2 separate regions of the Homo sapiens genome follow, and region 2 is linked to region 1. Evidence: fine-mapped expression QTL. Tissue or cell type: sun-exposed skin. Region 1 holds a variant in brackets; the other region holds the start of a gene. All regions are shown on one strand. Distances are between the middles of the regions.

Region 1 (4,352 bases):
AAAGTAGTTTATGCTTAATGAGTCTTACATAAATTAAATAATACATGTGTACATATGCATGTATATATATGTATGTGTGTGTGTGTATATATATATATAGAGAGAGAGAGAGAGAAAGAGAGAGAGAGAGAGACAGAGATGGTCTGGCTCTGTTGCCCAGGCTGGAGTGCAGTGGTGTGATCACAGCTCTCTGCACTGCAACCTCTAACCTCCCAGGCACAAGCAATCCTCCCGCCTCAGCCTCCTGAGTAGCTGGGACTACAGGCATGTGCCACCATGCTCGGCTAATCATTTCTTTTTAATTTTTTGTAGAGACGAGATCTCCCTATATTGCCCAGGCTAGTCTCGAACTCCTGGCCTCAAGCGATACTCCCATGTCAGCCTCCCAAAGTGCTAGGATTACAGGTTTCTTAATACATGTATAAAACCAAGATAAAAATCTCAAATACAGCTTCTCCCTTCTATAAGATTTGCCATATTGTAAGTCAGTAATATCTTTAATGTAGGCAATATTAAAATTAAGCATTTTTATTTTCTTTTAAACAATGAGCTATTTATTTGTCTATCTACAATTTTGAGACCTGGTGGTGATTGTATAGTAGTAAGTTTGCCACAGTCCTTACCAGGAGAGGAGCATCTATGAATTATTCCACAAAATAAGAGTTCTACCATATCTCTAATCCATTGTGCTCCTCTTCTCCAACCAATTTTGGTTTCAGATTGAGCACTTGTTTAAAATTTAATGTGCACAATAGACAGTTATTGCTTTTTTTGCAAGACAGGATTCCTTTCTAATCTTCTCTGTATCATTCCAATTTTAGTATATATGCTGCCAAAAAGAGCACAGGGTTCCTTTCCAAGCAAATGCAATACTCAGAAAGATGTCTAAGTGGGAAATCATGATACCAGGATTGATAATGTTCTGAAGTTGACACCAAAAGCCTCAACCACAGGGCTGTTAAGCAGACACAATTATTTACTCTCCTTCACTGGAACTTTCTTAGATGTGACCTAAATGTAATCTGATTTATAGAGCTGTTCATTATAAAAGGAGTCTCATATTAATTTTATTTGGAAAGGGTTTCCCCCCATGTTTTACATAATGTTGAGGAAAGAGAAGAGCTAAGTATAAAGAAAACATATTTCTGGGTGCTAATTTGTATATATTAGCCTAAAGATTACACAAATTTAAGAATACCTGTCCATGTGTACAAAGTCTCAAAAAACATAGCCTGTCAAATAAAAAAAAAATTCTTTTTTACTATACACAATAAATGCGGCTAAAAAAGAAACAGTTTTTAAAGGTTATGGACATGTTATTTGACAAACAAATCTGTATGTGACATAATAAAATTGATAACTCTTTACCAAGGCTCATAAGAGAGAAGATACAAATTTCCAGTATCAGGAATGGAAGTGGGGAACATTACTATAGATTCTACTAATATTAAAAATAATAAGAAGAAAATATTCCAATAAGCTTTATGCCAATAAATTTGATAGCTTAGATGAGATGAACAAATTCTTTGAAAGCCACATATTACTAAAGTTCATCCAAGAATATTAGATAATCTGAAGAATCCTAAATCCATTAAATAAATTTAATTCATGGGGAAAAAAACCTTTCTACAAAGAAAACTTCAAGCAAATAAGCCTTCACTGGCAAACCTATCAACATTTAGAAAAGAAATAATACCAGTTCTATAGAAGCTCTTCCAGAAAATAGAATTGGAAGAAACAGTTCTCAACTTACTTTATGAGGCCAGCATTATTCTGAAACCAAAACCAAAAACAGACATTACAAAAAAACGGAAAACTGGAGACAAATCCATTATGAACATAAATACAAAAATCCTTAATAAAATGTGAAGAATTTGAAACCAGTAATATATAAAAATGATAATATATCATAACTAGGTGGGATTTGTCCCACTTAGTTGCAAGGTTGGTTCAAAACTCAAAAATCAATCAATGTAATTTTCACCATATCAACAGATTAAAGAGGAAAAGTCATACTATCATTTCAATAGTGCAGAAAAAGCAACTGGCAACATTTAACATCCCTTCTCAGCAAATTATAACTTCCTCGATCTGATGAAAGGCATCATGAAAACACTGAGCTGATATCATACTTAATGTGAAAGATTGAATGCTTTACTCCTAAGATTAGCAGTGAGGCAAGGAAGCCTTCTCTTACTACTGCTATTAAACAGTGTGTTGCTGTTTTTTTGGTTTTTTGTTTGTTTTTTTGAGATGGAGTCTTGCTCTGTTGTCCAGGCTGAAGTGCAGTGGGGTGATCTTGGCTCACTGCAGCCTCTGCCTCCCGGGTTCAAGTGATTCTCCTGCCCCAGCCTCCCGAGTTGTTGCTGTTTTTAACCAGTGCAATAAGGCAAGAAAAATTTATAAAGGGCATACCAAC[G/A]GGAATGAAAAAATAAAATTATCTTTATCACAGACAATGTGATTATATGCATGAAATATTCAAAAGAATGTGCCAAAAAACTACAAGAACTAAGTTTAATGGTCAATGTATAAAATCCAACTTATTTCTATAGACTAGAAAATGTTCAATTGGAAACTGAAATTTTCTAAAAGTGCCATGTATACTTTCGATGTTATTATATAACATCAAAATCATGAAATACTTATAGAGCTAACAATATTTGATTTAAGATTTGTTGGCTGAACACTTTAAGACATTTATCAGATAAATTACAAAGAACTAAATAAATTAAAAAACACACTGCATTCACAGATCAAGAGTCAGTTAAGATGTCAATTCTTTCCCAATTCATTTATAGATTTCATGCAATCTACCTCAGTCTAAATGTTTGTGTCTCCTCCCTCCCCAAATTTATACCTTGAAATCCTAACCCCTAAGGTGATGGTATTTTAGGAGGTGGGGCCTTTGGGAGGTGATTAGGTGATGAAGAGAGAGCCCTCATGAATGGGGTTAGTACCCTTATAAAAAGAGGCCCCAGAGAGCTCCTTTGGTTTGTCCACCATGTGAGGTTAGAACAAGACGACAGCTGTCTGCTAGGAAGCAGGCCCTTACCAGACATTGAATCTGCCCAAGCCTTGGTCTTGGACTCTCCAGCCCCTAGAACTGTGAGAAATAAAATTCTGTTGTTTGCAAGCCACTCAGTTGATGGTAGTTTGTTACAGCAGCCTGAATGGACTAAGATACTATCAAGATCACAATCCCACCAGACATTTTTCTTCAGGCAATAACAAGCCAATTATAAAATTTATATGGAGAATCAAAAAGCTAATTGGCCAAAATCAACTTTGATAAAGAAGAATAAATTTGGAGAACTTATGCTACCTGATTTCAAGACTGCCTATGTAATCAAGACAATTTGGTACTGGACCAAGAATAGACATACGAATCAGTGGACCAGAATAGAGTTTCAAGAAATAGACACACATATAGGGCCAACTGATTGTTTTCAACAAAGTTGCAGAGGTCATTCAATGCTGAAAAATTGGTTGTTATCTTTTATATATAACAAAATGTACTGGATGACTATATATTCATATGGAAAAAATAAAACCAAAACAAAAAAACATTAATCTTGCTTGCTTGCTTGATCCATATCTCACACCATAAGGTATGGATCTATTTTTAAAACCAATTTGAACCAGTGAATGAATAAACAATGTGGGGTATGTTCAGGCAATGGAATACTACTCAAAAAGCCAGACACAAAATGTTACATACTGTATGATTCCATGTATATGCCACTCTAGAAAAGGAAAAACCATAGGGAGAGAAATTAAATCTGAGATCACCAGGGATTGAATTTATGGGAAAGGGCATTGACTAAAAGGAGCACAAATGAACTGTTTGTGGTAAAGGAAATGGTCTATATCTTGATTATGGTGCTGGCTAAATGATTGTATGCATTTGTGAAAACTGATGGAACTATACATTCAAAAGGGGTAAATTTTACTGTATGTAAACTACACCTCAATATAGCTTACTTTAGGAAAGAAGAAAATCAAAGCAAAGAAAATGGAAAGAGAGGCTACATGATAGCTAATGCATGATCCTAGATTGCACCAGGAGGCAACAGCTAAAAAGAATGTTATTAGGACAGTTGATAGATTTGAATATGGATTGTGGATTAGATAATGGCATTTTATCAGGGTTAAATTTTCTGATCTTGATAATTGTACTGTGGTTATGTAAGACAATGTCCTATTCTTCAGAAATACAACTGAAATATTTAGTGGTAAAAAAAAAAAACCTATAATGTCTGTAGTTTATTCTTAAGTAGTTGACAGAGAGAATGAGAAAGCAAACAGGACAAATATTAACAATTAGGAAAGCTGGCCCAAGGGTATACAGAAGT
Region 2 (4,144 bases), 200 kb after region 1:
CAGGAGGCTGAGGCACAAGAATCCCTTGAACCCGGGAGATGGAGGTTGCAGTGAGCAGAGATGGTGCCACTCCAGCTTGGGTGACAAAGTGAGACTCTTGTCTCAAAAAAAGAAAGAATGGGTCATTACTATTTACCTTGAGTATTTGGGTGCTAATAAACAGATATCTGATGATACCTGGGGCAAGAACTGAGTTCCTCCCCTCTCATTGCCTTAGTTCTGTGCATCCCAGGGTAGTATTCAACACTCAGTGTTTCCTCTGACAAACTAGATGCTTCCCAAAACAAAAACAAACTCATTTTTAGAATTCTGTTATATTATTTGCTTCTTGTTTTTATTTTTTGTGGGGAGTGAACTGGTAAACCCAGTGGACTTTCTTAACACTCTTCTAAGTCATTCAAACTGTCAGTCAAAACCCACCTATTTCTCAGGCTAGTAGAATCCCACTATAAAGTGATTTATAAACTGGATTTATATAAATTGGGGGATCAATTGCCCCTCCCAAACAATCATCTCCTATAAAAGATTAATAAAACAACATCTGGTTAAGAACACTGACACTACATTATAAAGGGTTGCCCCTGTACTTAGACTAGCATGAGGTACACATCTAGAATGCCCAGTTAGCCAAACGGTCTTGACGACCATGCAGACTTTCATATGCCAACAAAGCCGGTGCAGTGTACTTTTCCAAAAGTGCTCCAATTCTCCTTTTGGACAACTTTCTTAAACGTTATTTACCAAGCTAATAAAATGTATTCTCAATGGACTTTTTACTCTGCTTACATCTTTGTTCTTACTCATCCCAAAGCAAAGAATGGAAAAAAAATGAGTTGTACATTTAGCCGGGGAAGGGAAAGGCAAGTACTGAGGGGCTCCTTTTTCATTTACTGATGCCAAAACTGAGGCTGTGGAAGATAAGTTACGTCCCTGATGTCATCCAAGTAGTGGATACCGGAACCAGGAATTGCACAGAATTGTCCAGCTCCAAAACCCAAGCACCTTGCTTGGGACCCACTGGGGTTGCAGTGAAGGTGGGGGGCTCAGAGGTGACTGCACACGGGTCATGCATAGCCACAGTCATTATATGGCCAGAGTTTTAAACATTATTTTGTTCTGTCTTCACCATAGACTTCATCATCAATCATAACTGATAAGGAAAATTACACTTAGCTGAAAAGCCAAGTCCCGTGCTAGGGAGGCATTTTCTGTATGTTATTTCTATTTCCAATAAAACAATTCTTTAAAAAGAAAAACTTATTATCTCCATCTTTCAGATGGAAAGACTGAGGTTTAGTAGGCTTAAATAATTTGCCCGAGGTCACTCACTAGCCAAGGCCAGAACTGGGATTTAAATCCACAAATATTCCAAAGTCCTTTTGTTTCTGTATCACTTCACAGGGAGCTGCTTCCACCTGTCTCCTGTGCCCTTGGTTTCTGCTAATCCTACATTCCAAGAATAAAAGTCTTCCTATGCGTTCCTAGGCAGAAGCCAAGTTTCCCTGCTTTGGGCACGTTCAAAATAGAAGGTATTTTCCGCTTCTCTTGCTTCTGAGCACCCACGAAATCAACACATCCCCAAAACACGCGTTGAGGGAGTAAGGGAAAGTGTCCTGCACCCGCCACCCTCCCGCGCTAAGAGCGGCAGAGGACCCCACAGCTTCGTACTTCCCCGGAGGAGCTCCTGGAGTAGGAGACGGCTTCTAGCCTGGAAGAACCCCGGGTGCGACAGTTGTGCCAGGAAACTTCAAGAGTATTCCCTCGGCTGGGCGCACGCAGTACATCCCCAATGCTCCAATTTGAACTTTGACTCGGCCACGACCACCCCACTCCAGTCTCACTCTACGGTGCTTTCTCCCCTGTTGGTGCTGAGGGCTTTTGAGACTACCTGCCCCGCGCTCCCTAAGTCCGAGGGACCGAGGCGAGGACCTGTCCCGCTGAGCTGGCACGACCCACGCAGGGCAGGCGGCACTTACGCGGCGCAGTCGGTGCTCCTCCCTGAGCCGCGGCGCGCAAGGACCCCAGCCGGTTGTCCTTGCAGCGCTTCCCAAATCAGGCAGAAGTGAGGCAGCCCCACCCAGTCACGAGGACCCTGCAGAACTCGAGCCTTTAAGCGCTCCTCTAGGCTCACATGACCCAGACCCACAGGGCAAAAAGTGCGTCGTCGTGTCCCAACCTCCTGGTCCCAGAAACCTGGCCGCATCAAGTCAGCGCTTCCCATGCTGGAAGAAGCAAGCAGCCCCAGGGTGGAATCTTAAAAATTAATGAAGAGCATCGGCGGGGTGCCATTCAGGTTGGTTTGTCCCTTTGTTTTATTTTGATTTTGTCTCCCAGTTTTTAAAAGCTGCTATCTTAAAATTTCAACCCTGTATTTTGAAATTATTTCTGCACTCTAGGACTTACTTGCAAGCCCAGGATTTACATTTGGAAAGCGAGTGGTGTTTGATTCCCACTGTTTAAAAAGGCAACACACGTTCGCTGATGGTCTACATTCCAGCTGCACTAGCAGTAAGCTCGCACCAAGTGCCACTGTCCTGCCAAGCACTCTCCTGAATCACTGCGCTGGAGTCTCAGAGCCACCTGATGTGTTCTGTACCATTATACCCATTTTGCAATTGGGGGACACAAACTAAGTGAGGTTAAGTAACCCATCCAGGGTCACATTGCTTGTAAGTGACCTGAGTGTATATTATTAGCCACCACCAGGTGCTGGGCATCGAGCCAGACAGTACGGGAGCAAGAACTAAAAAAGGCAAGGAGGTTGCAATGGCAAGTAGATAACACAAAATAAAGGAGGGTCATCATTATCAGCAACAGCAGCGTCAACTGCCAGACAGGTGGGAGAGGCCACGGGGAATCTTCTGCACTGTCCCGGGCCAACCTCCATCTCCTCACAGCTAGCTGCAGGAGTGAGCCCAGGGAAACCCGCAGTAGAGCAGCCCAGCCAACCCGACAGTCAGGGGGAAAAATTGTTTTAAGCCACTTTCAGTTTCGCGTAGTTTGTTATGCAACTAAGGCTAACTAAAGCACTAGTTTTACGAGCTGGAACAAACTAATGTCACTGAATATCTGTTTTCTCCTAAGTACCTACTTTATTGGGTTGTTGTGAGGACTCACTGAAAAACTATGTGTAAATCACCCAGCACAAAGTATGTGCTCAGTGACTGCAGTCATTCTTTGCTATCATACCTTCCATATGGAAGTACTTCCTACCCACCTAGCTCTTTAAGGAGAAAAATCTGTTTGTGGGAAAATAATTCTTTTAAGGCCAAAATCAGCCCACCTTTAATATATGCAGGACCCAGGGCAAAAGTACAAACAGAGATCTGTAGGCCAGATACCTAAATATTTAAAAGTTATAAACAAAGTTAACAAATGATTAAGTACAATAAGTTCTACCTTCCTACCTAGACAAATATACCTTGGGAATTGACATGAAAGGCCAGATTGAAACTTTGGATGATCTGCACTTAAATATGATGGTGCAGGGAGAGGCGATTTCCAGTTCCTGGTTTGCAGCCACCTCCTCTCTTCCCACAGGGCTCTAGTCCATTGGTGGAAGCTCGGTCAAGCTTCCCAGAAGCAGCTGTCCCCCAGCCACCTCTTGGGCACAAGAGTATGAACACCAGAGTCAGCAATGTTCGCCCATGGGAGTACAGACATTAGCAGATAACACTGCTGCTGGCGTGCAGACCCTTGAAGCAGGCTCAGTGCCATTTGGGGAGGGAATTTGGAATTTGCCTTCTAAAGTGTGGGCCCTGGACAAGGGCTCCTTGGGTCTAAGTATAAGGACAACTACTGGCCAAAGAATACCTGTGCCCACGTGGAACCACTTAAAAACTAAACTGAATTTTACAGTAAACACAGGAGGAGCCATGCTGTAAGCATATTTATTCAAAAACAGGGTGTCCCAAAAGTCTTCCTGCAGTTTTAGTAACCTCAAGGCTATAAATGCTGCAACTTATAAGAACACCATTTGAAAGTTAATTTAACACTATTTATCTCTGTGAATGTTGAATAACACGTTTTAACTTTAATTTTTGTTTCAGTTCCCCTGAGTGAAATATGGCATACATTAACCAGAAGAGAAAATTACATTTATTAAAATAATTAAAACAGAGTCAAAAGAAGTAAACGTTCAAAT

Evidence for each region. PIP is the estimated chance that this variant, and not a neighbour inherited with it, causes the effect.
Region 2: it holds the start of CPVL, and the variant in region 1 is fine-mapped to the expression of CPVL in sun-exposed skin (GTEx, PIP 0.96).

Annotation. Positions count from the first base shown.
Region 1 is chr7:28,943,693-28,948,044 of GRCh38, forward strand. No RefSeq gene overlaps it. Among named protein-coding and RNA genes, the nearest start is that of TRIL, 12 kb to the right of the region's middle. The variant G/A (reference allele first, on the strand shown) is at 2,420.
Region 2 is chr7:29,144,453-29,148,596 of GRCh38, forward strand. CPVL (carboxypeptidase vitellogenic like) reads right to left here and starts at 2,085. Exons shown (of 13, transcript NM_031311.5): 1 at 1,977-2,085. It also overlaps a transcript of CHN2 not described here.